7 linked regions of the Homo sapiens genome follow. The protein of the gene in region 1 purifies or fractionates together with the protein of each later gene. This does not show direct contact. Each region holds a gene or a part of one and is shown in the gene's direction. Other genes may lie near its edges. The genes, in order: ENO1, TPI1, RIPK2, CAT, L1TD1, IVNS1ABP and PARK7.

The links.
Region 2: the proteins of ENO1 (region 1) and TPI1 fractionate together in Homo sapiens (co-fractionation; 4 studies listed by BioGRID, with this or other methods). This does not show direct contact.
Region 3: the proteins of ENO1 (region 1) and RIPK2 purify together in Homo sapiens (tandem affinity purification; one large-scale study listed by IntAct). This does not show direct contact.
Region 4: the proteins of ENO1 (region 1) and CAT fractionate together in Homo sapiens (co-fractionation; one large-scale study listed by BioGRID). This does not show direct contact.
Region 5: the proteins of ENO1 (region 1) and L1TD1 purify together in Homo sapiens (co-immunoprecipitation; one large-scale study listed by IntAct). This does not show direct contact.
Region 6: the proteins of ENO1 (region 1) and IVNS1ABP purify together in Homo sapiens (affinity purification with western blotting; 2 studies listed by BioGRID, with this or other methods). This does not show direct contact.
Region 7: the proteins of ENO1 (region 1) and PARK7 fractionate together in Homo sapiens (co-fractionation; 3 studies listed by BioGRID). This does not show direct contact.

What each region holds. Positions count from the first base shown.
Region 1 is NC_000001.11:8,864,884-8,868,964, reverse strand, and holds part of ENO1 (alpha-enolase), read left to right. Parts: intron 1-907; coding exon 908-977; intron 978-1,714; coding exon 1,715-1,848; intron 1,849-2,374; exon of another isoform or gene 2,375-2,463; coding exon 2,464-2,686; intron 2,687-3,482; coding exon 3,483-3,680; intron 3,681-4,081. UniProt on the Homo sapiens protein: Glycolytic enzyme the catalyzes the conversion of 2-phosphoglycerate to phosphoenolpyruvate. In addition to glycolysis, involved in various processes such as growth control, hypoxia tolerance and allergic responses.
Region 2 is NC_000012.12:6,865,854-6,870,625, forward strand, and holds the start of TPI1 (triosephosphate isomerase), read left to right. Parts: upstream 1-1,713; coding exon 1,714-1,828; intron 1,829-2,251; exon of another isoform or gene 2,252-2,656; intron 2,657-3,010; coding exon 3,011-3,134; intron 3,135-3,245; coding exon 3,246-3,330; intron 3,331-3,404; coding exon 3,405-3,537; intron 3,538-3,834; coding exon 3,835-3,920; intron 3,921-4,195; coding exon 4,196-4,283; intron 4,284-4,411; coding exon 4,412-4,530; 3' UTR 4,531-4,772. Other genes in the region: USP5 (ubiquitin carboxyl-terminal hydrolase 5), read left to right, coding at 131-224. UniProt on the Homo sapiens protein: Triosephosphate isomerase is an extremely efficient metabolic enzyme that catalyzes the interconversion between dihydroxyacetone phosphate (DHAP) and D-glyceraldehyde-3-phosphate (G3P) in glycolysis and gluconeogenesis.
Region 3 is NC_000008.11:89,771,234-89,775,314, forward strand, and holds part of RIPK2 (receptor-interacting serine/threonine-protein kinase 2), read left to right. Parts: intron 1-507; coding exon 508-557; intron 558-1,433; coding exon 1,434-1,595; intron 1,596-4,081.
Region 4 is NC_000011.10:34,455,698-34,459,778, forward strand, and holds part of CAT (catalase), read left to right. Parts: intron 1-313; coding exon 314-505; intron 506-967; coding exon 968-1,120; intron 1,121-4,081. UniProt on the Homo sapiens protein: Catalyzes the degradation of hydrogen peroxide (H(2)O(2)) generated by peroxisomal oxidases to water and oxygen, thereby protecting cells from the toxic effects of hydrogen peroxide.
Region 5 is NC_000001.11:62,197,615-62,201,695, forward strand, and holds part of L1TD1 (LINE-1 type transposase domain-containing protein 1), read left to right. Parts: intron 1-4,081.
Region 6 is NC_000001.11:185,295,307-185,298,065, reverse strand, and holds the end of IVNS1ABP (influenza virus NS1A-binding protein), read left to right. Parts: coding exon 1-31; 3' UTR 32-1,678; downstream 1,679-2,759. UniProt on the Homo sapiens protein: Involved in many cell functions, including pre-mRNA splicing, the aryl hydrocarbon receptor (AHR) pathway, F-actin organization and protein ubiquitination.
Region 7 is NC_000001.11:7,964,527-7,968,607, forward strand, and holds part of PARK7 (Parkinson disease protein 7), read left to right. Parts: intron 1-797; coding exon 798-899; intron 900-4,081. UniProt on the Homo sapiens protein: Multifunctional protein with controversial molecular function which plays an important role in cell protection against oxidative stress and cell death acting as oxidative stress sensor and redox-sensitive chaperone and protease.

The sequences.
Region 1 (4,081 bases):
TGTAATTCCAACACTTTAGGAGGACTTTAGGAGGCTGAGGTGGGCAGATCCCTTGAGGCCAGGAGTTTGAGACCAGCCTGGGCAACATGGCAAAGCCCATCTCTATAAAAAAAAAATATAAAAATTAGCCAGGCATGATGGTGCATGCCTATAGTCCCAGCTGAGTTTGGAGGATCATTTGAGCCCACGAGGTGGAGGTTGCAGTGAGCTGAGATCGTGACACTGCATTCCTGCCTTGGCAACAGAATGAGACTCTGTCTTAAAAAATAAAAATTAAAAAATTAAAAAGTAATACTGATTTTTATTGGATTACTTTGAGCCAGTTCTCAGTACGTCAGTTTTGTTACTTTATAGTCTCATCAAAAATTCATTTTGATCCATCATTAGACGCTTTGCTAAATGATTTCGGACTACCTGCAGAAATCATGCCTCCCATCAGAGGATGAAGATTTGCCATCTTTGCAGTTAGCCAAGAGTGAGCAGCAGAGCCTGCCTTTCAAGGGCTCAGCCTGCTTGAGTGAACAGTGAGCTTTGCTTATTTATTGCCTATGAAAGCCATGTTCCTGGGTAGCAGTGGTCTACATAGCACATACCTGACAGTTCTCTTGGGTGTAAAGTCACTTTGGGCTCCCTGGGTAGACTATTAACCTTTTGTTACAAAAGCATTGTCTGAGAGTGCCATCTCTGTTGCATTGTTGGGTGAATGCCTGATAACCATCAAAGCAAGCAGAAGGCAGTTTTTTGTCTCCCCACTGATTTTTGTCCTCCACTTTTTTTGCTTATAAAACAAACATCACAGAATTGATTTTGATATTACACAGTTCCAAAGTCAGATTCCATGGTAGGGGAGCAAAGGCTATGCAGATAAGAGTGGCCCCAACCCCTCATTCTCCCCTCTCCCTCGTAGAAACTGAACGTCACAGAACAAGAGAAGATTGACAAACTGATGATCGAGATGGATGGAACAGAAAATAAATGTGAGTGGCCTGAGGTGGCGTCTTTACTGGGGAAGATCATGAAGTCTCCTGAAGATTTTAAAACCTTTCAGGAAGAGGCCCATGATCTTAGTGATGAGCTACATGAGCCTGTGGTCTCTTCCCATTTCTTTGCTTTACTCTTAAGAAATCACACTTTTGGCCAGGTGCGGTGGCTCACGCCTGTAATCCCAACACTTTAGGAGGCTGAGGCAGGTGGATCACGAGGTCAGGAGATCGAGACCATCCTGGCCAACGTGGTGAAACCCCGTCTCCACTAAAAAATACAAAAAATTAGCCAGGCCTGGTGGTGGGCGCCTGTAGTCCCAGCAGGAGAATGGTCCCGGGCGGAGCTTGCAGTAAGCCAAGATCCTGCCGCTGCACTGCAGCCTGGGCAATAGAGTGAGACTCTGTCTCAAAAAAAAAGAAAAAAAAAAATTTTTTTTGAATATCAGGTGCAAAACCAGGTGACAATAGCCTGTCAGTTTGGTTACTCAGAAGAGCTTTGCTCCTTATAATGAATTCAGCAATTCCTACTGTTGGCTGGAGTTGGGCTCTGTCTTAGAGGGGAAAAGCAGTGGTGAGTCCACATAGAATGCTATTTGTATTTCTAGTAACAGTGAAATGGAGGTGTGATGGGGGAGGAGATGGTGCAGAATACAACCCTCAGGGCAGTACAGCAGGAGAAAAGCTGGTGAATCAGAAATGACTTCATTCCACTCGGTTCTCTTCTGTTCTAGCTAAGTTTGGTGCGAACGCCATTCTGGGGGTGTCCCTTGCCGTCTGCAAAGCTGGTGCCGTTGAGAAGGGGGTCCCCCTGTACCGCCACATCGCTGACTTGGCTGGCAACTCTGAAGTCATCCTGCCAGTCCCGGTGAGTGGTTTATTGGAACTTCCCAAGCAAGGAGTTGGGGGTTTCAGCTTGCTGTTGGGGACCCGAGACCTCCTATGCCTTGATATCCTAACACATGTGACTCTCCCAGCACAGCTCTGCCCCTTGTTAAGTGTGACCTTGAGCAGGTAACTCAACTTGCCTGTGCCCCAGGTCCTTTATCTGCAATGGAGGCTCGGGGAGGAAATGACAGCAGTACTTTCCTTGCTAGGCTGTGAGCATTACCTGACATAGTCACAAGTGTTTCTCCTGGTGATGATGAATTTGCAGTTATCAAAATAGACCTGGCGTGAACTGGTTGCAGTAGCGCACACCTGTAGTCCCAGCTAATCAAGAGGCTGAGGCAGGAGGATCACTTAAACCCAAGAGTTTGAGACCAGCCTCTAGGCAAGACCAGTATAGTGAAACCCTGTCTCTAAAAACATGAGTCAGAGACCTGGTGAGCATTTCACAGCACCCTGGCCCCTCTGGTGCTCCTCAAGAAGCAAGTCTTGGGCTCATCTGTGAGCTAGATTGGGATGGTAGGACCAGAGGGGCTTACTGCCCTGTGGGGCTCTCTGGACCCAGTGCCATGCTTCTCTGCTCTGCTCTCCCCAGGCGTTCAATGTCATCAATGGCGGTTCTCATGCTGGCAACAAGCTGGCCATGCAGGAGTTCATGATCCTCCCAGTCGGTGCAGCAAACTTCAGGGAAGCCATGCGCATTGGAGCAGAGGTTTACCACAACCTGAAGAATGTCATCAAGGAGAAATATGGGAAAGATGCCACCAATGTGGGGGATGAAGGCGGGTTTGCTCCCAACATCCTGGAGAATAAAGAAGGTAAAGGCGCTAGGGAACCGCCCCCCCACCCAGCCCTGCAGCGCCAGCTCCCTCTGTTGGGGGGTCGTCCACACCTGCCACTGTGGAAATCTATTCTTTCCACCTGTAGTTTGTAAAGATCAAGACCCTTCAAACGGTTTTAAGGAGGAAAAGGGGAGCTTCATTTTATTTTACTTATTTTTTTCTTTTTTTTTTTTTTTTTGAGATGGAGTCTCTGTCGCCCAGGCTGGAGTGCAGTGGCGCAATCTCGGCTCACTACAACTTCCGCCTCCTGGGCTCAAGTGATACCTACTAGTTTGGGGAGCCAAGTGTCTGTCCGTCTGTCCTGCTGGCAGGGCAGCTTAGCCATGGACAGCAGACCCTGAGCCTGAGCTCTCAACGGCACAGCCTGGCGGGAGGATCCTGCCATCCCGGGCTGCCTCCACTGGGCTTTCTCTTGGACCCCGCTTCTGCTCTATTTAAGGCCTGTGCCTTGGGACAGCTGATCTCAGCTGCTTACTGTAACTGTATCTTGGCCAGGACAGCTGTTCCTGGGCACTAAATTTGGGAGCATTTGTCAGTGAGAAGGGCTGCTTTCTTGGAAAGAGAGCTGAATTTCCCATTTTGTATGCACCAAGAACTCTGACCCATGGTTTCTTGCCCCAAAGCAGAAAAAAAGTAACTGATGTCAGAACTACTGGTTGGGGCCTGAACACCTGTTGATCTTTGTGTTACAGTCCCTGTGTAGCAGCTGTTGAAGGGAAGTTTTCTCTGTACCTACCTGTTTTCCAAACCTGTTGTCACCATCTCTTCCCAGGCCTGGAGCTGCTGAAGACTGCTATTGGGAAAGCTGGCTACACTGATAAGGTGGTCATCGGCATGGACGTAGCGGCCTCCGAGTTCTTCAGGTCTGGGAAGTATGACCTGGACTTCAAGTCTCCCGATGACCCCAGCAGGTACATCTCGCCTGACCAGCTGGCTGACCTGTACAAGTCCTTCATCAAGGACTACCCAGGTGAGTGTTCCCCGAGTGCCATCTCCCTTTCCTGCCACTGACCTGCAGCAGGGCAGCTGGAGCATCTGGCTGGCTGGTGATGGCTGCAAGGAGGGGATGGGGAGGGAGTGTCTGAACTTCCAGCTCCCGTAGGGGATTCACCACTGGGTTTGCCCCCAGTTGTGCATACACAGGGCTTCACAGAGGTTCTTGTGTAGCTAAGGAGCTCGGGTGCCAGCAGCGACATTGCATAATAAGTTGTTCACAGTCAGGAGCAGAGGCAGTCTGTGCTCCATTAGACAGGTGAGGGAACCAAGCCTTCAGAATCAGAACAGCCACTTGGTACTGAGATGTATCATGCTTCCTGTGAGCTGGGAATATTCATTTTAGGCTGTGTGTGTGCACAGGATAGAGACTGTGAC
Region 2 (4,772 bases), on another chromosome or scaffold:
CTGGGCTGTGGATTTGGGGTATGGGCAGAGAGTGTGGAGAGCACTTCCAGGGGCCATGTCTGAGAGACTACATGATGCCACTTTGAATGCCCAGTTTGTTCATCCTTTTCTGTTTTCCCCACTTCCCCAGATGGGTGATCTACAATGACCAGAAAGTGTGTGCCTCCGAGAAGCCGCCCAAGGACCTGGGCTACATCTACTTCTACCAGAGAGTGGCCAGCTAAGAGCCTGCCTCACCCCTTACCAATGAGGGCAGGGGAAGACCACCTGGCATGAGGGAGAGGGGCTGAGGGATGGACTTCAGCCCCTCTGCTCTGTACCCTTTTTCCTTTTGTCCCCGGCAGCAGGGAAGAAGCTGGAGGCCGTGGGAGAATGGCTGGGCAGAGCAGAGGGGCAGCGATAGACTCTGGGGATGGAGCAGGACGGGGACGGGAGGGGCCGGCCACCTGTCTGTAAGGAGACTTTGTTGCTTCCCCTGCCCCCGGAATCCACAGTGCTCTGCTTCTCTGTGTCGCCCCGCCCAGCCCCCTGGTGTGGAGGGAGGGGTCTCGTTTGTGCGCGTGGGTGTAGCTTTGTGCATCCTCTCCCAGTGGAGCGATCACCTGTGCCTCCCCTCCCCCTTTGTTTGCCCCTGTGTGGTTGGTCAAGGAGGGATGTGAGGGAAATAGGGACCCCCCGACTTGCCCTCCTGCCTCAGTCTTTCCCCCACCCTGTCTCTTCCTTGTCCTTCTCTGGAAAATGCCAAAATACACGATGTGAATAAAAGTACAACGGCTAAATTGTGTCCTGTTTGATACCTTGGGGGAGAGGCTTACCTTCCTGGGGTTAGCAGGAGGGCGCTTAAGAAAACTCCTAACTCTGGCCGCCTCCCTGCCAAAGTCAAGTCTCCACTTTTCACTGGTTCTAGAGCTCTAGGAAAATTGGGGTTGGGTGGGGAGGTGGAGTAGAGTGACTAAATGCCGACACAAAGCCAAGGAAAGATGGAGTGAAGAACCCTTCCCTCTCTTTATTCACACAGGAGTGGAGGATTTCCCAAATGTCCCTAACTGGCTAGCTGGCTTCAGGCTGGGACTCAGTCCCTGCAGTTCCTGCCAGGCCTTGCCAGCCGGGGCGAGGGTTGGGATGATCCTGGCGGCCTATGCCTGTGTGGGCTGCCCCTCCCGCTGTGAACCCTGCATTTGTCCCGCAAGTTTTCACTCAGGTAGACTCCCTGGGTACAAGGGTGCCTGCTCAGCAGTCGGGCATGAGCTGCTCCGATGGGCGAAGGAGGTTGTCTATCCCACAGTTGGAGAGGGGCCCTCTCTGCCCCAGTGGGCGATCTGGGCTACGGCCAAGTTGCCACCAGCTAGTTCCGCTTGAAAACCACTTCTGGCCCCGTGGGGGACTCAAGTCGCCAAGCGAGGGTTCCCCTGAGCGCCGGAGCTCACAGGTCTCGCCTTGTCCCGAAAGCCCCGCAATCGAGGCGGAGGCGACCGAGCCCCCGACTCTCCTAGAACGTTGCCACAAGAAGGGGGAACGTCGGAACAGTGCATCATCGGGCGGCGGCCGGGGCGGCGGCAGGAGGGCGGGCGGGGGGCAGGGCTCCGGGGGACTGGGCGGGCCATGGCGGAGGACGGCGAGGAGGCGGAGTTCCACTTCGCGGCGCTCTATATAAGTGGGCAGTGGCCGCGACTGCGCGCAGACACTGACCTTCAGCGCCTCGGCTCCAGCGCCATGGCGCCCTCCAGGAAGTTCTTCGTTGGGGGAAACTGGAAGATGAACGGGCGGAAGCAGAGTCTGGGGGAGCTCATCGGCACTCTGAACGCGGCCAAGGTGCCGGCCGACACCGGTAAGCCCTCGCCGAGGAGGGGTCTGGCCGGGCCGGGGCCGGGGCCGGGGCAGGAGTGGCAGCGCCCTCTCCCGAGGCCCCGAGGCCCCGAGGCCGGTATCCGCGCGGACCTGATGCAGGGCTGTGGGACGAGGGCCGCTGGGGTCCGGGCAGGGGCCTCGCAGCCGCAGCCCCGTCGGTGCGTCGAGGGGGCAGGGCGGAGCACATGATGCCCCTTGGACTATGGGGCAGGTAAGGACGTTTTGGGTCTCCTGGAGGAAGGTGGCCCCGGGGCGCGCACTGGGGCTGTGCCCGCCAGGCGACGGGGTTAGGAGCGGAGCCCGAGGCTCTGCGGGAGACCGGGGGAGGCTGGGCCGCGTGGGCTTCCCGCTCCCTGCGCCCTGGCCTCCCGCGCCGTGCGCCGCCGCACGTAGCCCCAGACTCCTCCCCTTCCTCGCCGGCGTCCGCGTCCCCGCGCCGAGCTGCTCGGGCTCCCTGAGCCCCAGATCTGACCCCTTCCCTTCGGCAACCTGAACGACTCCCGCCTTCCACGGAAGGGACCGAGCCCGTGCCAAACAGGCTGAGCGATTTGGGAGTGAGGAGCCATCCTACCGCTTTCCCCAACCTGGAAACAGCAAAGCGCAAGGCCTCTGAGTCAGTTAGGTCTCTGCCACCCACGGGCAAAGGATGCTCTCCTCCATCCTCCTTCCTCCCTCCACCGAAATCGGAGAGCCGCGGGCCTGATCCAAAGAGGCATCCCCTTCTCGTTCATTCCCCAGAGGCCTCAATACAAACCCCAGGAGTTGGCCCCTCTCCTTTTGCTACAAATCCTTGCCTTGCAAAGGGGAGGTGAGGATGGGCTATTTTAGAAGGGAAGCAGGGTTGCTCCCTGGAGAATGCTGAGTCTGTGAGGTGCCTATGCCGAGAATAGCTCGAGGAAATTGGAGCCCCAGCTGTTAAAAGAGCAGAGGGCAGGGTGAGGGCCGTGGCCTCTCAGGGGTATCTGGAAGGCTCTTCGAGTTGAGTGCAGACCCAGCCTGGGCTGGAAAATGGACAAAGGTCATCTTGCTGGGGTGAAAAGGGGGAGAGCAGAACCAAGAAGAAGAGGGTGAGGGCTGGGGGGCTCCAGGGCACTGGTTAGGAATTGTGGGGAATGAAGGCTTTCTTTAGTCTCATCCCCCTGTGGTACCATCTTGTCCTCAGAGGTGGTTTGTGCTCCCCCTACTGCCTATATCGACTTCGCCCGGCAGAAGCTAGATCCCAAGATTGCTGTGGCTGCGCAGAACTGCTACAAAGTGACTAATGGGGCTTTTACTGGGGAGATCAGGTGAGATCGAGGTGGAGAGGGGTGTGTGGGACCCTTCCCTCACTTTCCTCGTTGAGGGGAAAGCCACAGGGTGGGCTCCCTGCTGAACCTTGGCTTCATCTCTTCCTTTAGCCCTGGCATGATCAAAGACTGCGGAGCCACGTGGGTGGTCCTGGGGCACTCAGAGAGAAGGCATGTCTTTGGGGAGTCAGATGAGGTTAGTAGCCAAGAGAGAAGATAAGGGATGTCTTTTTCCAAGAAGGATGTCTCACCAAGTCTGTTTCTCAACAGCTGATTGGGCAGAAAGTGGCCCATGCTCTGGCAGAGGGACTCGGAGTAATCGCCTGCATTGGGGAGAAGCTAGATGAAAGGGAAGCTGGCATCACTGAGAAGGTTGTTTTCGAGCAGACAAAGGTCATCGCAGGTATCTCTGGAGAAAGGGACCTTTGAGCCTATCCAGGGCCACAGAGACTCAGAGGGTAGGGTCAGGCCCTGGAGCCTGTCTTGGTCCCCATGCTGATCCAGAAAAGGAAAAAGGGGAGGGGGAGTGACAATCTTTGCTTGGGGCCTATGACTTCTCCAGCCCCAAGGTAGATGCCACCTGGAAATCCCCCAATGTCCACTAGGGGGCAGTAGGCCACCGTTCTTCGTACTCCGGAGAACCTGGCTGGAGAGCTCTTTCTTGTTCACCCTTCCCTCCATCTGTATCTCTGCCCTGCAGATAACGTGAAGGACTGGAGCAAGGTCGTCCTGGCCTATGAGCCTGTGTGGGCCATTGGTACTGGCAAGACTGCAACACCCCAACAGGTAACCGGGCCCAGGAGCCCTGCCCTCATCCCAGCCTGCCTCAATAGGTTTGGACAGACACAGCCCACATGGGGCAACCCCTTATTTCAAAGACACAGAGACCTTGAACCCAGAGACAGTGACTTGTCCAAGGGCATCCAGTCCAGGGCCTGGCTTGGATCAGAGCCCTGGTACTCTGACTCAGTCAGAAACCACACTAAGTGTCCACTGGTGCCAGTGATTTTTCCTCTTAGAGAGGCAGAAAAGGTCTTACTTAGGCCAGCTTCTTGTTCTAGGCCCAGGAAGTACACGAGAAGCTCCGAGGATGGCTGAAGTCCAACGTCTCTGATGCGGTGGCTCAGAGCACCCGTATCATTTATGGAGGTGAGTGGCTTTGGTTCCCGGCTGAGGTGGAGTGGGCTGAGGACTAGACTGAGCCCTCGGACATGGAGGTGGGGATGGGGCAGACTCATCCCATTCTTGACCAAGCCCTTGTTCTGCTCCCTTCCCAGGCTCTGTGACTGGGGCAACCTGCAAGGAGCTGGCCAGCCAGCCTGATGTGGATGGCTTCCTTGTGGGTGGTGCTTCCCTCAAGCCCGAATTCGTGGACATCATCAATGCCAAACAATGAGCCCCATCCATCTTCCCTACCCTTCCTGCCAAGCCAGGGACTAAGCAGCCCAGAAGCCCAGTAACTGCCCTTTCCCTGCATATGCTTCTGATGGTGTCATCTGCTCCTTCCTGTGGCCTCATCCAAACTGTATCTTCCTTTACTGTTTATATCTTCACCCTGTAATGGTTGGGACCAGGCCAATCCCTTCTCCACTTACTATAATGGTTGGAACTAAACGTCACCAAGGTGGCTTCTCCTTG
Region 3 (4,081 bases), on another chromosome or scaffold:
TGTGGCAAAATTCTTATATCCTATTTAACCATTTATTCTAATTATAAACTCTATGCAGCTTAACCCTGTAATTGACATCTGAAGTTAAACTGTAGGCAAGATATTTCTACTACCAAAGAAGATAGTGCTGAGAGCAGAAAAAAGGCAGTAGAATAGAGCTCCATGAGACAATTTTTTTCTTGTTCTTTGTTCTTTGTGAAAAATAATATCATTTAATTAAAGGGCATAGCTTATCTGGGTGTCCAAGAATTAAATCATCCACAAAAAGTTAATCTTGCATGTAACGTTAAGCTTGTATTACAGTAATTTCCTAATTTTTTAACTTAAAGTTGATTTTGTTTCCAAACTACATGAGCATTTATCATCTTCATTGTATACAGTAATTCTTTGCTGCCTTATCACTTTGAAAAATGGTATCTTCAGTCAGCTTTTAAAAATAGTGCTATTTTAGTTTATTATGCAGAGTTCATTTAAAATATGTAACATGTATGTTCTTATGTTAAACAGCTATGCAGTTATCACATGGGAAGTGTTATCCAGAAAACAGCCTTTTGAAGGTAAGTATGGTTTGACTTTTTTATGCTCAATAACATCATGTTAGTAGGTCACTCTCAGAACTATCTAAAAATCATGTTATTTTAAATCTGCTTATTCATTTTGTGGAAAACACACTAAAACAACCATTTATCAGTTGTGAATGCATCACATACTGCAAAATATACCGGGTTAAGGATCCAGTTGTGAGTCTACTATATACTGGAAAATGTACTGGATTAAGGATCAGAAAAACCCAGATTTTAATTCTTGTTCTGACAGTAATTAGCTCTGTGATCAAGTCACAAATCTCTTGCGTCCTCATTTTTGTCGCCTGCATAATAAGAATTTTAAATTACTATTTCCAAGTTCTAGTCTAGCTGTAAAATTATTTATATGATAATTTAATTACTACCCCCTCTATAAAGACTAGCAAATATCGAAGACTAATCTGTCCTTTTTATTCCCTGAAAATATTGTTTATTTCTTTATTTTGAGGTTTGTGTAGGTCAGCTTGTTGTGTAACAAAAAACAACCTCGGAATCTCCGTAGCTTATGAAATAAACATTTATTTCTCATTCACATTAAATATTGGTTGCTGTAGCCCTTCTTAGTTCTGCAAGGTTTCGCTCAGCTCTGCTTTACAAATACTCTGTTGACCAAATCCAATCACATGGTCAAGCCCAAAATTAATGAGGTGAGGATATAAACTCATTCCATAGGAATCAGACAAGTCTGGCAATGGTTTGGGGTATATATATTCCTTTTACAGAAAGGGGGGTAAGGCATCATTCCTAAAATTTCAATATTCACTTATTTTCTTTTAGTTAGTTTTAGATGTAAGTAATATGCTTAATCATAATATATTACTAATGAATGCAATCTATTTGTTTTGACAGATGTCACCAATCCTTTGCAGATAATGTATAGTGTGTCACAAGGACATCGACCTGTTATTAATGAAGAAAGTTTGCCATATGATATACCTCACCGAGCACGTATGATCTCTCTAATAGAAAGTGGATGGGCACAAAATCCAGATGAAAGACCATCTTTCTTAAGTGAGTATATAGTTTTAACCTAGACTCTTTGAATTACAGAATTAGTTAATATACTGTGAATAAAATATTCCTTGAAAAATTGTGCAAATTAGATGACTAGCTAGAAGTTGTTTAAATTATTTTCTGTCTTATCATAGCATTTATATATGAGTAACTCCTTCTAGAGCAGAATTGAGAATTCCTAACAAAAAAGAGAAATCGTGTGATAGGAGTAACAATTTCTTTCATATATTTAACAAATATGTCTTAAACCCCTACCATGTGCTATGTATATACTGGAGTGAGCCCTGGGAACAGAGTAGTAAACAAGACAAACTTTCTGTAGCTAGTTCACATTCTAGTTGAGAAGGCAGAGTGAAAACAAATAAATAAGCAAGATACACAAATTGTGACAGTCTTATAAGGAAATAAGCAAGGTAATAGACTAATTAAGGGAGGGAAACAAAGGCCTTTTTTTAGGGGCAAACATTTGAGCTGACATTTGAAGCTTGAAAAAGAGCCAGTCATTCAAATGCTGAAGAAAGAGTATTCAGCCAAACAAAACAGCAAGCATAAAGGCTCTGAGCCTAGAAGAGGAAAAAGTTTTATATTCTCAAGAAACAGTGAGAAGGCCTGTGTGGCTGGAATACAGTGAGCAAGGAAAGGAATTAGATGATATTGGAGAGTTAAGAGAGAGGCTATTGGCCATCATAAAAAGGTTAGATTTTTATTCCAAGTGCAATGGAAAGCCATTAAAGTATCTTTTGCAGGGAAGTGACATGATCTGATAGAAGTTTAGGTGAAATTCTTACTGCTGTGTGGAAAGTTGATTGGAGAAAGACAAAAGTGGAAGCAAAGAGGCTAGAAAAGACACTTTCAGGAATATTCTAATTAAGGTGGAAATTCTGAAGACAGAAGAGTTACAGAATTAAGATAGTATTTCAGAGGTAGAATGGATCAGACATCCAAATGTAAATGTAGGAGAAAATCTTCATGACCTAGGGTTAGGCAGAATCTTTAAATATGACATCAAAAATAAATAGGATTCATTAAAAAATTTATAATCAGACTTTGCAAACATTGGAAACTTTTCCACTTCGAAAGGTACTATTGAGAAAAGAGAAAGCCAGGCATTTAGTGTCCACGACTTTAGTCCCAGGTACTTAGGAGGCTGAGGCAGGAGGATCACTTGAGCCCAGGAGTTTGAGGATGTGTAATAGTGCACTGTGATCGTGCCTATGAATAGCTACTGCACTCCAACCTGGGCAACATAGCAAGACCTCATTTCCAAGAAGGAAAAAAAAAAGCAGAGCCACAGACTGGGAGAAAATATTTGCATAACATGTATCTGCTAAAGGGCTTGATTCTAGAATATATAAAAAACCCTGACAAGTCAATAATAGGACATATAGCCCTATTTTTAAATGAGTAAAAGATTTGAATTTCACCAAGGGAGATATACAAATAGCTAAAAAGCACATAAAATGATGCTTAATATTATTAGTCATTTGGAAATGCAAATTAAAACTGCAATGAGTTACCACTTCATACCCACAAAATAGCTATAATTAAAGACAGAAAATAACAAGTGTTGACAGTGATGTGGCAGAACCAAAATCCGTATACATTGTTGGTGGGAATATAAAATGATGCTGCCACTTTGGAAAACGGTTTGGCAGTTTCTTAAAAATGAAAGATAAATTTACCATACAACCAAGCAATCCACTAACAGGTAAACCAAGAGAAATGAAAACATATGTTCACACAGTTGTATGTGATTAGTGATAGCAGCATTGTTTATAATAGCCAGCAAGTAGAAACGGTCATAATTACTGCTGCTACTACTACAACAATACATGAATCTGTTGTTCCAGGAAGAGTCCAGGATCCTAATATAAAATTGAACATCACTAACATATTGATAGTCTGGACTGGTTCATCTAAGAAGGGAATATACATAGCAAAGAGAGGACCCATAGTAAAGCTCTGAGGCATTCCAGCACTTAGAAATTGAGAAGAGGAAGAAGAAAAAGGATTAAGGAAGAGAAGACAGTAGAGAGTGTAGTCCTTGTGTCTTGGAAGTCAAGGAGGGGTATAGTCGGACATGTTTAATCTGCCAGGAGGCCAAATGAGATAAGCAGGATTTTCCAACATTGTCATCACCGGTAATCCAAACAAATGGAGTTTTAATAGAGAGATGTAAACAGAAGACTGATGTACATTTAAAAAAAATAGAAAGAAGTGAAGGCAAATATGGAAAATTCCAGCAAGATGCTTGGCTCTGAACAGAAGCAGAAAAAAATGAGGTGATAGCTAAAGGATGATATGGGGTCAAAATTTTTTCCTATGGCCAGGCACAGTGGCCCATGCCTGTAATCCCAGCACTTTGGGAGACCAAGGCAGAGGGATTACTTGAGTTCTGGAGTTCCAGACCAGCCTAGGCAACACAGCAACACCTTGTCTCAACAAAAATAAAAATAAAAAAAAAATAAAAAATTAGCCAGACA
Region 4 (4,081 bases), on another chromosome or scaffold:
TGATTTTTCTGATTTGGAAAGTAACATGAGTGTAAAAATTCAAATAATAGAATACATAAAGGGAAAGATAGGACTGATTTTAAATATGAAATGTGTAGATGGGATTCCCTTGACATTTAAAAGTATTGGGATAATCAAGTAGAATTTCTTGTTGATAAATTCATTAGTATCAGATTTGAACAATAGAAGTATTGTTGTAAAGAAAGTTCATTCTTTGGGCAGTGTTACTCATAATCCTTCAATGAATTACTGATGAAATTTTGATAACTTTGACAATAAGTTTCCATTGGAGCTTCTTTCTTTCATTTTGTAGACTGACCAGGGCATCAAAAACCTTTCTGTTGAAGATGCGGCGAGACTTTCCCAGGAAGATCCTGACTATGGCATCCGGGATCTTTTTAACGCCATTGCCACAGGAAAGTACCCCTCCTGGACTTTTTACATCCAGGTCATGACATTTAATCAGGCAGAAACTTTTCCATTTAATCCATTCGATCTCACCAAGGTGAGTCAGTAAACAACTATATTGTTTTCTTTTTTAAGTCTCTTCTTACCTAATTAGAAAAAAAATCTAGTCAAACAATTATAATAATGGGGAAGTCATATACAAAATACAGAGGGTACCACTTCAGAGTGTCCTAAGCTGTGAATGAGTGCTTACCAGCATCTTACTTCCACGTTCCTGTTTGTCATTTCATTGAGTATGTGTATGTGGCTTCATATATTGTTATTAACAGGGAACAGATTATGAAAAGCTGATGTACTTTTTCCTGGGGAAACTGTCAGTATTTACCACTTACTATTGTGAAAGATTTAACTAAGGCACTCATCTTAAATTCTTATGTTTTATTGGATTTAAAAATTATTTTCATTGGCTTGATTGTATTTGAAATCTGGTATTTTTGTGGGTAGCTTTGATTTCCTTCAGTTGATTGCCTGGTAATTGTGAATATGACATCATTTTCAGGTTTGGCCTCACAAGGACTACCCTCTCATCCCAGTTGGTAAACTGGTCTTAAACCGGAATCCAGTTAATTACTTTGCTGAGGTTGAACAGATAGCCTTCGACCCAAGCAACATGCCACCTGGCATTGAGGCCAGTCCTGACAAAATGCTTCAGGTGAGCCTGGTGGATTGAGATGTTCTGAGGCAGGTGTCCATGTGAGCATGCACACACAAAATATGCAGCTTGGCATGATCTTTATGTGAGGAATTAACAAGAACATTACTTAAACTTTAATCTGGGTGCTTGGTTACCTTGTGGGATTCACTGAGGTGAACTATTCTTCAATGAGCATTCCTTGAGTAAACCAAGTATAAACAAAAGTCCATGGTAAGATCCCTACATATGTGAAGACAAGAATACTTACTCTCTTAATTAAAAAAAAAAGACATAATAGAAATACCTTAAGTATTGATAGAGTGAAGCATGGTTTGTTCTGTCTGTAGCTGAAGTATGGTTAATTAATTATAATACCTTGGTAAGCCTAACTTTATTTTCTTGTTCTTTTTTTTTTTTTTTTTTTTTTTTTTGTGACAGAGTCTTGCTCTGTCGCCCAGGCTGGAGTGCAGTGGCATGATCTCGGCTCACTGCAACCTCCGCCTCCCAGGTTCAAGCGATCCTCCTGCCTCAGCCTCTTGATTAGCTACAGGCGCCCGCCACCATGCCCAGCTAATTTTTGTATTTTTAGTAGAGACGGGGTTTCACCCTGTTGGCCAGGCTGGTCTCAAACTCCTGACCTCAAGTGATCTGCCTGCCTCCGCCTCCCAAAGTGCTGGATTATAGGCGTGAGCCACCGTGGCTGGCCTCATTTTCTGTTTCATGGTGATGCTTGAATTTTTCCATTTGTAAAAAGAGATCTAGGGATGATCTTTATGAACTACATGTATGCTGCCAGTGATAAAAGCAGTGGATTAACCATTCACCTTGCTAATGTTAAGCCATCAGTATGTTTTACATCACTTTTTAATATCTCTTTCAAGAGTACCAAGAGTGAAAAATTGTACTTTGGATCAGAATCAGTAAGAAAATAATTGGCTTAATAATTACTGTATAAATCAATCTTTTGTGGTTTTAGACTGTGACCTTGAAACAAAGGTTAAAGATTGTACCCTAAATCAGACCACAGCGACTGAAGGTTACTTCTTATGTAAGTATCTGATTCCAGTTCAGGTTTCAGTCTGCATGGAGGACAAGCTAAGATTCCGTTTTTAAAAAATAACTTTTTTGCTTATGACATTGGGGAACATCTGAGGCTTTTATAGAAAGTAAGTTTTTCATTAGTTTTTAGTCCAATTCAACTGTTACAAATTGAGTACCTGTCTGTTGTGTATGGTGGACTGTCTTGGGTGCCATAATGTAAGGCAGAATGCCATGGTGATCCAGAAAGCAAAATTTTGTCTGATAGGAGGTCAGCCACGAAGTTTCATGAACGAGGTAGCATTTGAGATTGTTTTGAAGAATAGATAGGATTTTGATTTTTAGTAGGTAAAATGCGGCAGGAGAAGGACATGAGTATAGGCACAAAGGTGGGACATGTTAGGTGTGTTGAAACTATAAACAGTCACTCTCTCCTGAATGAGAAGAATAGAGTTTGGGTAGGTTCATTGAGTATATGTCAGAGGGGACCTTAAATGCTTGAGTAGGAGTGAAAAGCTTTCTTCAGTTTTGAGAAGTGTGGTCTGGGATATATTGAGTAGAATCACTCCTCTTGGTGATAAATAGAAAAAGCGACAACTAGGGATTGGGAATAGCAAAAGGAAAGTCAGGCAGTTCTCAGAGGAAAAGCAGAAGTTTGCATTGAAACCAGGGAGTAGAGGAAGCCAAAACAAGGTAATCCTGGGCCCTAAAACTCCCTACCTGGTGGCTGAACTGTGAGAGGATGAGGCTAATGGGATTTGCCAAGGCATGAAATTGTCATGGGCAGAGCAGAGGCTGCATAACCCTGGTTACCCAGGGAGGGAACGGATTGAGGAATACAAGGTTACCTAAACTCTTTTCACAAGAATCCAAGTCACCATGGGTCTCTGGAACCACAGTGGGACCGTGAGGCAGTCAGCAGCACTGAGTCATATAATTTGAAGAACAATGAAGATTTGAATGGAGAACTAGGCCCCCGGGAAAAGGACTGCAAAGCAAATACGTATTCTCTACATTCCTAAGAAAGCAAATGTCTAAGGCAGCTATTCAAACAGTGGGGAAGAGAGTTCTGAAAAAGGATGACAAGTAGAAAGTAATATAATTTCTGTTAGTATTAATTTTAGTTCTGGCAAATATATCTATTTTAAATTCAGTGTACTCTTTATAGGTTGTTTTTTTTTTAAATGAGTTTTAGAAACTGTTCGAAAGAGCTTTCATAAGTTTGTCGAGTTATTGTTTCTAGCCTAGCTTTCCCCCATCCTTCTTAGGTCATTTAGCTATCAGTTCCAATACCATGGAGCCTGTGAGGAGCCATACAGTTGGGGAAGGACTGTTGTACTCATTTAGCCATTTGGTGACCATTAAGGAATGATTTGAGATTTTTTGAGTAGGTGAGTAGGGAATATGTAGATTGTCTTGTTGGACAGGAAGTGGAAAGCCAGTTAGGGGGGCTTTGGGGTTATTCCTGCTGAGAGCTCATGAGTATTGTAGCCTAGGCAGTGGCGGTTGATATATTAATGGGCAGTGTTTACAGGTGCCTTTTAACAAGGTCATGTTATTAAGTTTTATAACTTTATCCAAAGTGGTGAGCCACACCATGGTGAAATGGACAAATAATATAATACAAGTCATAGAGAGACTGTCCTGTCCCCTGAGTACCTGAGGACACAGGTGCAGCCTTTCTTGCTCTCATTCTCTGCATTTTGCCAAGAGTTGGAGAAGTTGGGCCGGTTGCTTGGGTGGGAAAGGCTTTCCCACTCACGCAGGTCCAGCAAGGGAGTTCAGGCACAGGGCCTTGGGGAAGGCCTAGATTCAAGCTGGTGTCAGGGTATGGCCTCACTGTGCCCATTTCCCAACCTTTGTTGGTCTCCACCCATAGGTGGGGTAAGGTTGCCTGATAAACACAGGGTGACACAAAATCAGAATTAGGTGATAGAGGCT
Region 5 (4,081 bases), about 53 Mb from region 1:
ACCGCACCCAGCCCAGCACTTTGGGAGGCCGAGGTGGGCGGATCACCTGAGGTCTGGAGCTGGAGACCAGCCTGGCCAACATGGTGAAGCCCCATCCCTAAAAATACAAAAATTAGCTGGGTGCAGTGGTGCACGCTTGTAGTCCCAGCTACTCGGGAGGCTGAGGCAGGAGAATCACTTGAACCTGGGAAGCGGGGGTTGCAGTGAGCTGAGATTGTGCCACCTGCACTTCAGCCTGGGCGACAGTGAGACTCTGTCTCAAAAACAGAAGAAAACAAAACAAAACAAAACAAAACCCTGTAAATTACTTGAATGCCCACTGCTGAGGGAATTACTTATTGAACCAAAATATGTTCAAAATATGGCATGTCACACATAGAAGAGTGAGGTGTGCATATATAACTGGAAGATTACAAATGGCCTATTGAAAAAAAGAAAATAGTGTTAAAAGTATAAAGCTATTAAAAAAAAGTAAATGTCCCCATACCCAAGGAGAGAGACGTACTAACTAGAAGTCGAAGTTGGCATTCTCCTTTATTGTCCTCCCATGCACCCATAAAAACCAGGCACTTTATCTTGGTATGGTAGCATGCCTGTAATACCAGCTCCTCAGGAGACTGAGGTGAGAGGATCACTTGGTCCCTGGAGTTTGTGACCAGCGAACAGTGATCACACCACTGCTTGCCACGCTGGGCGAGAGTGAGATCTCAAAAAAAAAAGCAAAAACACAAAAGTCACCTGTACGTTGTGAGAGATACCACACCAAACTTTGGGTGGCCTCAGAGGTCAGATAATAGAGACTGAGGTGAGGGACTAGTAATTGTTCTTATTTAAAAAAAAAAAAAAGAAGAAAAGAGAAGTCCATAATCCCCCCAGCAAATTCAGAAAAACACACACACCGACCCCCCGCCGCCGCCCCACCCCGCCGATAAGAACAGGCTGCCAGTGTTGAAAAGGTAATACACCACAAAGGAAATGCAAGCAGATAAACATATGAAAAGATGGCAGTCACAAGCCAAGGCAATGCAAATCAACAAGCTTTTTTCCATCCCTAAAATTAAAGGAAGTTTATCCGCCCTCCCAACCCCCAGTCCCTTGAGGGAAGTGCTAAACATTTCTTGCCCTTTCCAACCGGTGCTCTCCTGTATTGTATACTTTTAAAGTAACCTCCTTAAAATACAAAGCAGAACTTGGGAGTACACTGGTGAAAATCTCCGGTCTCCCTAATCACTTTTTTTTTTTTGGCAGGGTCTTGCTCTGTCACCCAGGCTGGAATGCAGTGATGCAATCATAGCTTAGAGTAACCTTGAACTCCTGGGCTCAAATAATCTGACCGCCTCAGCCTCCCAAGTAGCTGGGACTGCAGGCAGAAGCCAGGACGTCTGGTCCCTGAGCCCTTTTGATGGCTACCATCCAACCCTGAGACAAAATTTGCTAAACTTGTACCAGCCTCTGCTTTCTTCTTGATCAGGGATTTTGAACCCAGAGTGCCTGGGTAGTGTCTGGCTAGAATTCAGAGTATCTGATATCTTGGATGTGAAAAAGGTCACATATATTTATTGTCATTAAACGCTAATCATAATTTAGCATTTAGCATTTGAGGCTGGGAGCAGTGGCTCATGTTTGTAATCTCAGCACTTTGGGAGGCTGAGGCAGGTGGATCACCTGAGGTCAGGAGTTTGAAACCAGCCTGGCCAACATGGTGAAACCCCGTCTCTACTAAAAATACAAAAATTAGCCGGGCATGGTGGCGTGTGCCTGTTGTCCCAGCAACTCAGGAGGCTGAGGCGGGAGAATCGCTTGAACCCAGGAGGCAGAGTTTGCAGTGAGCCAAGATTGTGCCACTGCACTCCAGCCTAATCCACAGAGTGAGACTCTTGTATCAAAAAAAAAAAAAAATCAGCATTTGATACAGTTAACAACAAATAATAAATCCCACCGTGCCCGGCTGTAATTTTCAGTTTTAAGCCAGGCATGGTGGTGCGTGCTTGTATTCCCAGCTACTCAGGAGGCTGAGACAGGAGTTTGAGTGTAGCCTCGGCAACATCGCAAGACCCTGTCTCTTTTAAAAAAAATAACTTAATTTCGAGTTTCTCATTGCACCTGTCATGTACTATAGAGTGACTCTTGGAAAACACATTACCCAAAAAAGGTAGTGTTAGATAATAGGGCACTGGCCAGATTAATTACTGAAAAGGTCAAAAAATCCCCAGGGTCACTATGAATGTGGCCAGGGTGGATATTTGCCCCTGCACTGGCTGTAATCAGGGTGTTCAAACACTGGAATGTGTTTTGATTTGCATTCTCCTGACTAATATAATCTTTTTGTGTTTACTGTACATATGGTTTTTGTATATGTGTTTACAAAATTGGATTGTACTCTATATTTTCTGCACCATTTTTTCCCTCTAGTATACCAAAGACATCCTTAACCAATGGGTATGATTCTAATATACTCTTATTATGTATGGTATAATTTTTATATGTACGTTGAACATATTGTATGCACCATATAGAGTATATATATCATAACATGGTGTATATATATATAACAATGTATATTATGGTTATGATTATTTGAGACGGAGTTTCACTCTTGTTGCCCAGGTTGGAGTGCAATGGCGTGGTCTCAGCTCACTGCAACCTCCGCCTCCCGCATTCAAGCAATTGTCTTGCCTCAACCTCCCGAGTAGCTGGTGGAGCCCGCCACCACGCCTGGCTAATTTTTGTATTTTTAGTAGAGACGGGGTTTCACCATGTTGGCCAGGCTGGTCTTGAACACCTGACCTCAGATGATCCGCCTGCCTTGGCCTTCCAAAGTGCAGGAATTACAGGCGTGAGCCACTGTGCCTGGCCATAATGTATATTATAATGTATATTTTATAAATTAATGTATTTATGTACTTATATATAGTTATATCTATTCTATATAATCCCATCGTGTGCATAAATCATCATTTGTTCCACCCTTCTCTTATTAAAGGACATTGTTTTCTAGTATTTTTTGGCCAGAAAAAACTCAGTACTAAAATTTCTATTCATGTATTCCTAAGTGTACAGGTGGTTTCATTCCTAATGGTAGATTCTCAAGGGGAGAGTATATGTATTATTTCTGACTTTAATAATAGGCTTTTCGTTTCCTGAAATGTTTAATAACTATTCCTACTTCTGATGGGTAAAAGTGGTCTCATTGTTTTTTTATTATGTACTCAACTCCTGGGATTGGGCCACCTTTCACATGTTTACTATTGATTTACATTGTCTTTCCTAAAAATATTTTATTTAGTTTTAGTTTATTTGTTTTATTTTATTTTTATTTTTACTTTTTTTTTGAGATGGAGTCTTGCTCGCTCTGTTGCCCAGGCTGTAGTGCAGTGGCGTTAACCCTAATTCAACCTCTGTCTACCGAGGTCAAGTGATTCTCCTGTCTCAGCCTCTGGAATAGCTGGGATTACAGGTGCCCGCCATCATGCCCAGCTAATTTTTGTATTTTTAGTAGAGACAGGGTTTCACCATGTTGGCCAGGCTGGTCTGGAACTGCTGACCTCAGGTGATCTGCCCTCCTCAACTTCCCAAAGTGCTGGGATTACAGGCATAAGCCACTGCAACCGGCCTCAAGTACATTTATTGTAGCGTTTATTGGACACAATAAAGGCACAATTGTTATCAGAAAAATTTGTCCTTATGTGCCTGTAGAAGTTTACCCTTGTTTTCAGCTTTCTGTGTCATCTTGGCAAGTCAAGTAGAAGTCTATTTCACCAGGGAGAGCTCAGTGGTTTTCCTTAAGGATTTTCAGTTTAAAAAAAAATATTAGAAGCATTATCAGGCTAGACCCGGTGCCACTGCACTCCAACCTCGGCGAGTGAGACCCTGCTTAAAAAAAAAAAAAAAAAAAAATTAGCATATTCAAACATCAATAAAAGTAAGAACTCATCACCTAGATTCAAAAACAAATATTTTCCCCCATTTGTTTAATCTCTCTTTTTTCTTTCTTAGTTGTTTGCTGTGTTTTAAAGTAAATCCCAGACATCATGCCATTTCACCTGTAAAAACTTCAGTATGTAGCTCTTATAAAATAAGG
Region 6 (2,759 bases), about 180 Mb from region 1:
GAGCCCCTATACAAAGATTTTCCAGTTTTAACAAATTTAAGACCCTCTCAAACTAACAGGCTTAGTGATGTAATTATGGTTAGTAGAGGTACACTTGTGAATAAAGAGGGTGGGTGGGTATAGATGTTGCTAACAGCAACACAAAGCTTTTGCATATTGCATACTATTAAACATGCTGTACATACTTTTTGGGTTTATTTGGAAAGGAATGCAAAGATGAAGGTCTGTTTTGTGTACTTTTAAGACTTTGGTTATTTTACTTTTTGGAAAAGAATAAACCAAGAATTGATTGGGCACATCATTTCAAGAAGTCCCCTCTCCTCCACATTTGTTTTGCCAATTTGCACATTAAATGACTCTTCCCTCAAATGTGTACTATGGGGTAAAAGGGGTAGGGTTTAAAGATGTAGACAGTTGGGTTTTTTAAGGGCCCTTTTTCAATAACTGGAACACTCTATAACAAAGGATACTTATTTAAATAGATGACATTGACTATTTTTGTTTTTATTAAAAGGAAGCTTACATGCCTACCAATATTTAATCTTTTATGATTGCCTTTTTATAACTTTTTATATTCTCAGCAGAGTGCTTTACCAATTGAAGTAAAATGTGGCAGGCTGGAGTTATTGAAGCAGAGTGGCAGTCTTCAGTTTGCAGAGTAGGGGTCTGTCTTTTAAACTCTGAGTGCAAACTTCAGAGTTCTTGCCTTGGCTGCAGTTTTTTTCCTTCAAGAATGCAGTACTAACATTTATTTGAGTGGAGTTACTGAACAGTAACATAGCTGTGATTTTTGGTATTTGAAACACTGGTTTTAAATATTTTGACTTGTTGAGGGTATGTTTTATATAGCAAGACATTATATAGCAGTAAAAAATGGTGTTTTATCTTCTATATAATTCCTGTTTTTATTATTAACAAAACAGTCCTAAATAGCAGCCCTCAATTGTGAAAAAATTTACTTTAAACTACATTAGGTTGTGAATGCAGGTTTTATCAGAACTATGTTTTTGTTCAGTTTATCTGTTCATATGGATAAATATTGGTTGGGATGACTTGGTGTCTAATGTGTAGTGCTACACACCTAACTTATGGGGCCAAAATAGCATGTCCTAATGCTTGCTGCTGATTTAAACACATTAAAGGTACTTTGCAGGAAATCCTTGCACCATGGGATTAATATCCAATTGCTGCTTGTACACTCATTCATTACTAAAAGTTTTGAGAAATTTTTTTTTCCAGTAATGAGCTTAAGAAATTTGTGGAAAATAACTCACCTGGCATCTTACATCTGAAATAAGGAATGATATAAGGTTTTTTTTTCTCACAGAAGATGAAGCACACAGGAACCTAATGGGCCAACTGGGATGAGGTGACTATTCTGAGATGACTATTCAGTGGCTAACTTGGGTTAGGAAGAAAATAATTAGGTATTTTCTCCAAATGTTCACTGGTACTCTGCCACTTTATTTCTCTCATCTGTTACACAAAGAACCACCAGGAAAGCAAATCAGTTTGGTTGGTAACTCTGTAATTCCTAACTATCACTGGTTTGGTTCTGGACTAAAACTACATTGACAGATTGAATTTGCCTAATATGATGACTGTTTTTAATATGGATCTGTATGTGTTCTATTCAGCACAAGGAAATAAAATTTTAGTTGAGGATTCAGCACTAAAATCCTTGAGATCACTTCTCATTTCATAAGTGACATGCTTAATGCAAATAATATATGGGAATACTTTGGGTCAAAGTTTTCCTGCATTACCTTGGATGCCAAAGAGGTAGTTTGGTGGCCAAAAAGTATCTTTTTTTAAGAAGCTGTTGTAGCTAGTCTGCATGAACATGAGAAGTTTCCATAAAGGAAAAAAAGCAGTGCTCAGTGGCCATTTGTTACTGTTAATCTGTATCTAAAAGGTACATACTTTCTTCAGAGAGGGAGAAAATGGCATAGCCTCAGCACAATTTAAAAAAAAAAAAAAGCTTTTTAACCAGTAGGAATTTTTGAATAGTTTCAAAATAATATTGATAATACCACACTTCTGGTCAACTTAATAAAACACTCTAAATTTCCTAAAAAGGTAGAAAAGCTATAAAATATCTAAACCAAATATTATTGGTTATACTCGGGTGGATCTTTTATTATGAACTTTAAATGTAGGGTTCTGATTTTTGGCTTCTAGTGTGTCATGTACTTTACCACTGCTCAACATGTTTTCAAATTCCCAATATAATAATCATATTTTAGGGAAAATCCAGGATTTGAGTATGTGATATATCATTAGAATCCTTGCTTAATTAACAAATTAGGTGTGTGCCCTATTACCTCTCCTGACCTCAGAATTCTTAAAATTGAAGTAGGCAAAGGAGGAGCCCCAGTAGGACATTTCTGTAACTGCATGCAGAGTTGCCTTCAGAAAAGTGAATATGATTCATGGAAAATTCAGTTGCTGTCGTAATTTACACGCAGCTGCTTTTTGTTCCAAAAAAAAAAGGTCTGAAGAGTCAGCAAGTGAGACATAAGATACAAGGTTAATTAACTAGGTGTAAAGGAGAAAGAAAAACACTCATATATGAATCCTTAAATCCTTGGTAAGACTGAGCTACAAGTTTCATCCTATAAACAGGTTTTATTAAGTTAAATCAGTGTCTCTAGGTTAAAAAGGAGTAATTGCTATGAATTGCAGATATCCTTCATAATAAAACTGCCAGTTTCTCAAGAATATTAATGACACTTTGAACAAGTAGAGTTTATAAACAG
Region 7 (4,081 bases), 900 kb from region 1:
AATTCTGTAATACGTATTCTTGTGTAGGTTTCTTTGTGCAAATGTGAGGAAATTTTTCCAGGTTATATATCTAAAAGTAGAATGACTAGGCCGAAGGATAGCCTGTAGTCAGCATGACTAGGTTTTGCCAAGTTGCTCTCCAGTGTCCCAGTTTGTAGTCCCACCAGCAGTGTAGGAAAATTCCCACTTTCCCAGTGCCAGCTCTTGGTATTGTTGACTTTAAAAATTTTTGAAAGATAAAGCAGTATTTCGTTGTTTGGACTTGCATTTCTATTTTACAAAAATACCATGAGGTTTAAATGGCAACAGTAAACTTGCAAGATGAGTTATTAATAGGATGATCATATAACTGGTCACCCAAACCAGAACATTTGTGGGAGAAAGGGTGTTCCAGTCCCACAGAGTACAGGGCAGCAGCTATAAGTAGGGTCTGTCCCGGGCAAACCAGGGTAGACCTAGTTATTAAATATATTTAGCCAGTGTATTAGCTTAAATTTGGTATAGTTGTGGTGCAGTATTTCCTGTCATGTTACTTTCAAACACAGGGCAGCTGTGTAAACGTTACTCTAGCTGGGTGTGGTGGCTCATGTCTGTAATCCCAGCTACTTGGGAGGCTGAAGCAGGAGGATCATTTGAGCCCAGGAGCTGGAGGCTGCAGTAAGCTATGATTGTGTCACTGCCCTCTAGCCCAGGTGACAGGGTGAGACCCCATCTCTCTTTTTTCTTTTTTTTTAAAGACAGTGTTACTCTGAATTTATGTTTCAGTGTTCTTAAATATGATAACATCTTTCTCGTAGATTAAGGTCACCGTTGCAGGCCTGGCTGGAAAAGACCCAGTACAGTGTAGCCGTGATGTGGTCATTTGTCCTGATGCCAGCCTTGAAGATGCAAAAAAAGAGGTTTGTAATCCATACATGGAGTTATTCCTTCATATGGCTTCTTTGTTTCTTGAAATGTCTTAAGAGTGTTGTTAGCACAGACTCATTTTAGAAAATTATTTTGCTTGAATGTCTTCCCCTGACAGATTAAGAGGGTGAGGACTTTGTCTTTCTATTCTGTATCTGTAGAATGTGGCAATTGCTTGATACAGAATGTGCTTAGTAAGTGGGTGGCTGGATGGGTAGGTGGCCGGTTGGATGTGTGGCCAGATGGGTGGGTTGGTGCTTAGATGGATGGCTGCATTGTTTTCCCATCAGTATTTTTCTGGCTTACACAGGCATCCTTGCCTCCTATTACACATTTTTACCTGACATAAATCAACTGCCACATTTTCCATTTTTTATTATTATTATTTTTGTTTAGAGGAATGGTCCCACTCTCTCCCCTAGGCTGGAGTCCAGTGGTGCAGTCACAGCTCACTGCAGCCTCAACCTCCCAGGTTCAAGCAATCCTCCCACCTCAACCCCCCACGTAGCTCGGACTACAGGCATGTGCCATGCCCGGCCATTATTTTTTCTAAAGATACTTTCAGAGTTCCACTGTAGTTGTGTTGTTTTTTCAGTATCGTTGGAATTATGGCTCTTACCTTTAAGGACGATGGACACTTTTGGAAGCTAGCATCCCTTTCCTCAGAAACATGCTCCCCCACAGGCGCTTTTGCACACTCCGTCGTGCGGTCAGCGTGACAGGAGTGTGGACTGTACCCTCTGACAGCAGGGTCATGGCAGGAAAGGAGGCAGAGTCGGCTCACAGATGGCTGGTTGCACACTGCTGAGGAACCTGGAGTGCGGTTCCCTGGGCCGAGCTGTCCTCAGATACATAGGAAAAAGTTTAATCCTTTCTAATAAGTTTAGATTTTTCATTACTGGATTGTAGAAAATTAGACTGTTGGTATTTACATGTGATTTGTTGAAACAAATTAAAAATGACAAGCAGAAGTAAGTATTCCAGGCCAAGTGCAGTGGCTCACCTGTAATCCCAGCACTTTTGGAGGCCAAAGTGGGAGGATCACTTGGGACCAGGAGTTTGAGACCAGCCTGGGCAACATAGCGAGACCGTTTCTCTTTAAATTAAAAATTTGTAAAAGCCAGGTGTGGTGGTGCATGCCTGTAGTTCTAGCTACTTAAGAGGCTGAGGCAAGAGGATCACTTGAGCCTAGACGGTTGCTTGAGCCCAGGAATTTGAGACAGCAGTGAACTGTGATTGTGCCATTGCCCTTCAGCCTGGGTGACAGAGCGAGACCCTGTCTCAAAAATAATAATAATACTTTTTTTCATCTCTGTTTGTGTTTTTGTCATATGATGTCTGGGCATTTTAAAACAGTGGTTACCTTTATTTTCAATCGACAGATAATAAGTGTACATATTCATGGGATTTGTGATGTTTCCATGCATAATATATAGTGATCGGATCAGAGTAATTAGCATATCCATCATCTCAAACATTTCTTTGTGTTGGGAACGTTCAATATCCTCCTTGCTATTTGAAACTATATATGATTGTTAACTATAGTCATTCTACGGGGGTATAGAACACCAGAACCTATTCCTCCTATCTAGCTATAATTTTGTATCTTTTAACAAATCTCTCCCTATCCCCACTTTCTCCTATCCTCCCCAGCCTCTAGTATCCTCTGTCCTACATTATGCTTCTATGTGATCAATTTTTTTTTAGCTTTCACATATGAGTGAGAACATGGAGTGTTTAATTTGCTATTCCTGGCTTCTTTCACTTAATATAATGTTCTCTAGTTCCATTCTTGTAGCCACAAATGACAAGATTTCATTCTTTTTTATGGCTGGATAGTATCCCATTGTGTATAAATGCCACATTTTCTTTATGCATTCATCTGTTGTTGGACCTAGGTTGATTTCGTATGTTGGCTAGTGTGACTGTTGGTGTAGTAAACAAGGGAGTGCAGGTGTCTCTTCAGTATACTGATTTCCTTTCCATTGGATACATGCCAAGTAGTGGGATTGCTGGACCATATGGTAGTTCCATTTACTGTAGTTTTTTAAGGAAGTGGTTACCTTTTGTGTGTTTTTATTTTTCAGTGCAGATTCTAAAAGGAGTAAAATAAATTCTATACTTTACACATTTTCTTTTGAGTTTTGAGCTTTGCTTGGTTTTGAATCAACGGTAGGATGTTTATGGTCTTAAAAGTGATTCTAAGCCAGCCATAGTGGTTCACACCTGAAATCCTAGCACTTTGTGAGGCTGAGGCAGGAGGATTACCTGAGCCCAGGAGTTTTGAGACTAGCCTGGGCAATGAAGCGAGACCCTGTCTCTACAAAAATAAAAAAAATTAGCTGGCTGTGGTGGTGCATGCCTGTAGTCCTAGCTCCTGCAGAGGCTGAAGTGGGAGAGTTGCTTGAGCCCAGGAGTTCAAGGCTGTAGTGAGCCACGATTGCATCACTGCACTCTAGCCTGGGTGACAGAGGTGAGGGCTTCTCTCTAAAAAAATTTTATAGGTTGCACTAAATACATAATACATTTTTATTTTGTAATTTGTTTAATGACTAGATTTTTTTTAACCACTTTTTAAAGTACTAAAGTATTGTTGGCCGGCCACAGTGGTTCACGCCTGTAATCCCAGCACTTTGGGAGGCCGAGATGGGTGTATCACGAGGTCAGGAGTTTGAGACCAGCCTGGTCAAGAGGGTGAAACCCCATCTTTACTAAAAATACACAGATTAGCCGGGCACAGTGGTGGGTACCTGTAATCCCAGTTGCTTGGGAGGCTGAGGCAGGAGAATCGCTTGAATCCGGGAGACGGAAGTTGCAGTGAGCTGAGATCACTGCACTCTAACCTGGGTGACAGAGCAAGACTCTGTCTCAAAAAAAAAAAAAAAAGAAAAGAAAAATAAATAAATAAATAAAAAGTCCTAAAGTATTGTTAAAACAATTTCCGTTTTGTAATTTCAGGAAGTTTGAAATTAATTTGATTTCTAGGATTTTTTGGGGGGGATACTAAAATTCTCCCCCCGTTACATTTTTCATAAAGTTAAGAAAAATTTTTTGTGCCTTTTACTTAAAATTTGTTTCTCTATTAATTTTATTTGTTTTTTTAGACAGAGTCTTGCTCTGTTGCCCAGGCTAGAGTGCGGTGGTGCAGCCTCAGCTCACTGCAGCCTCTGCCTCC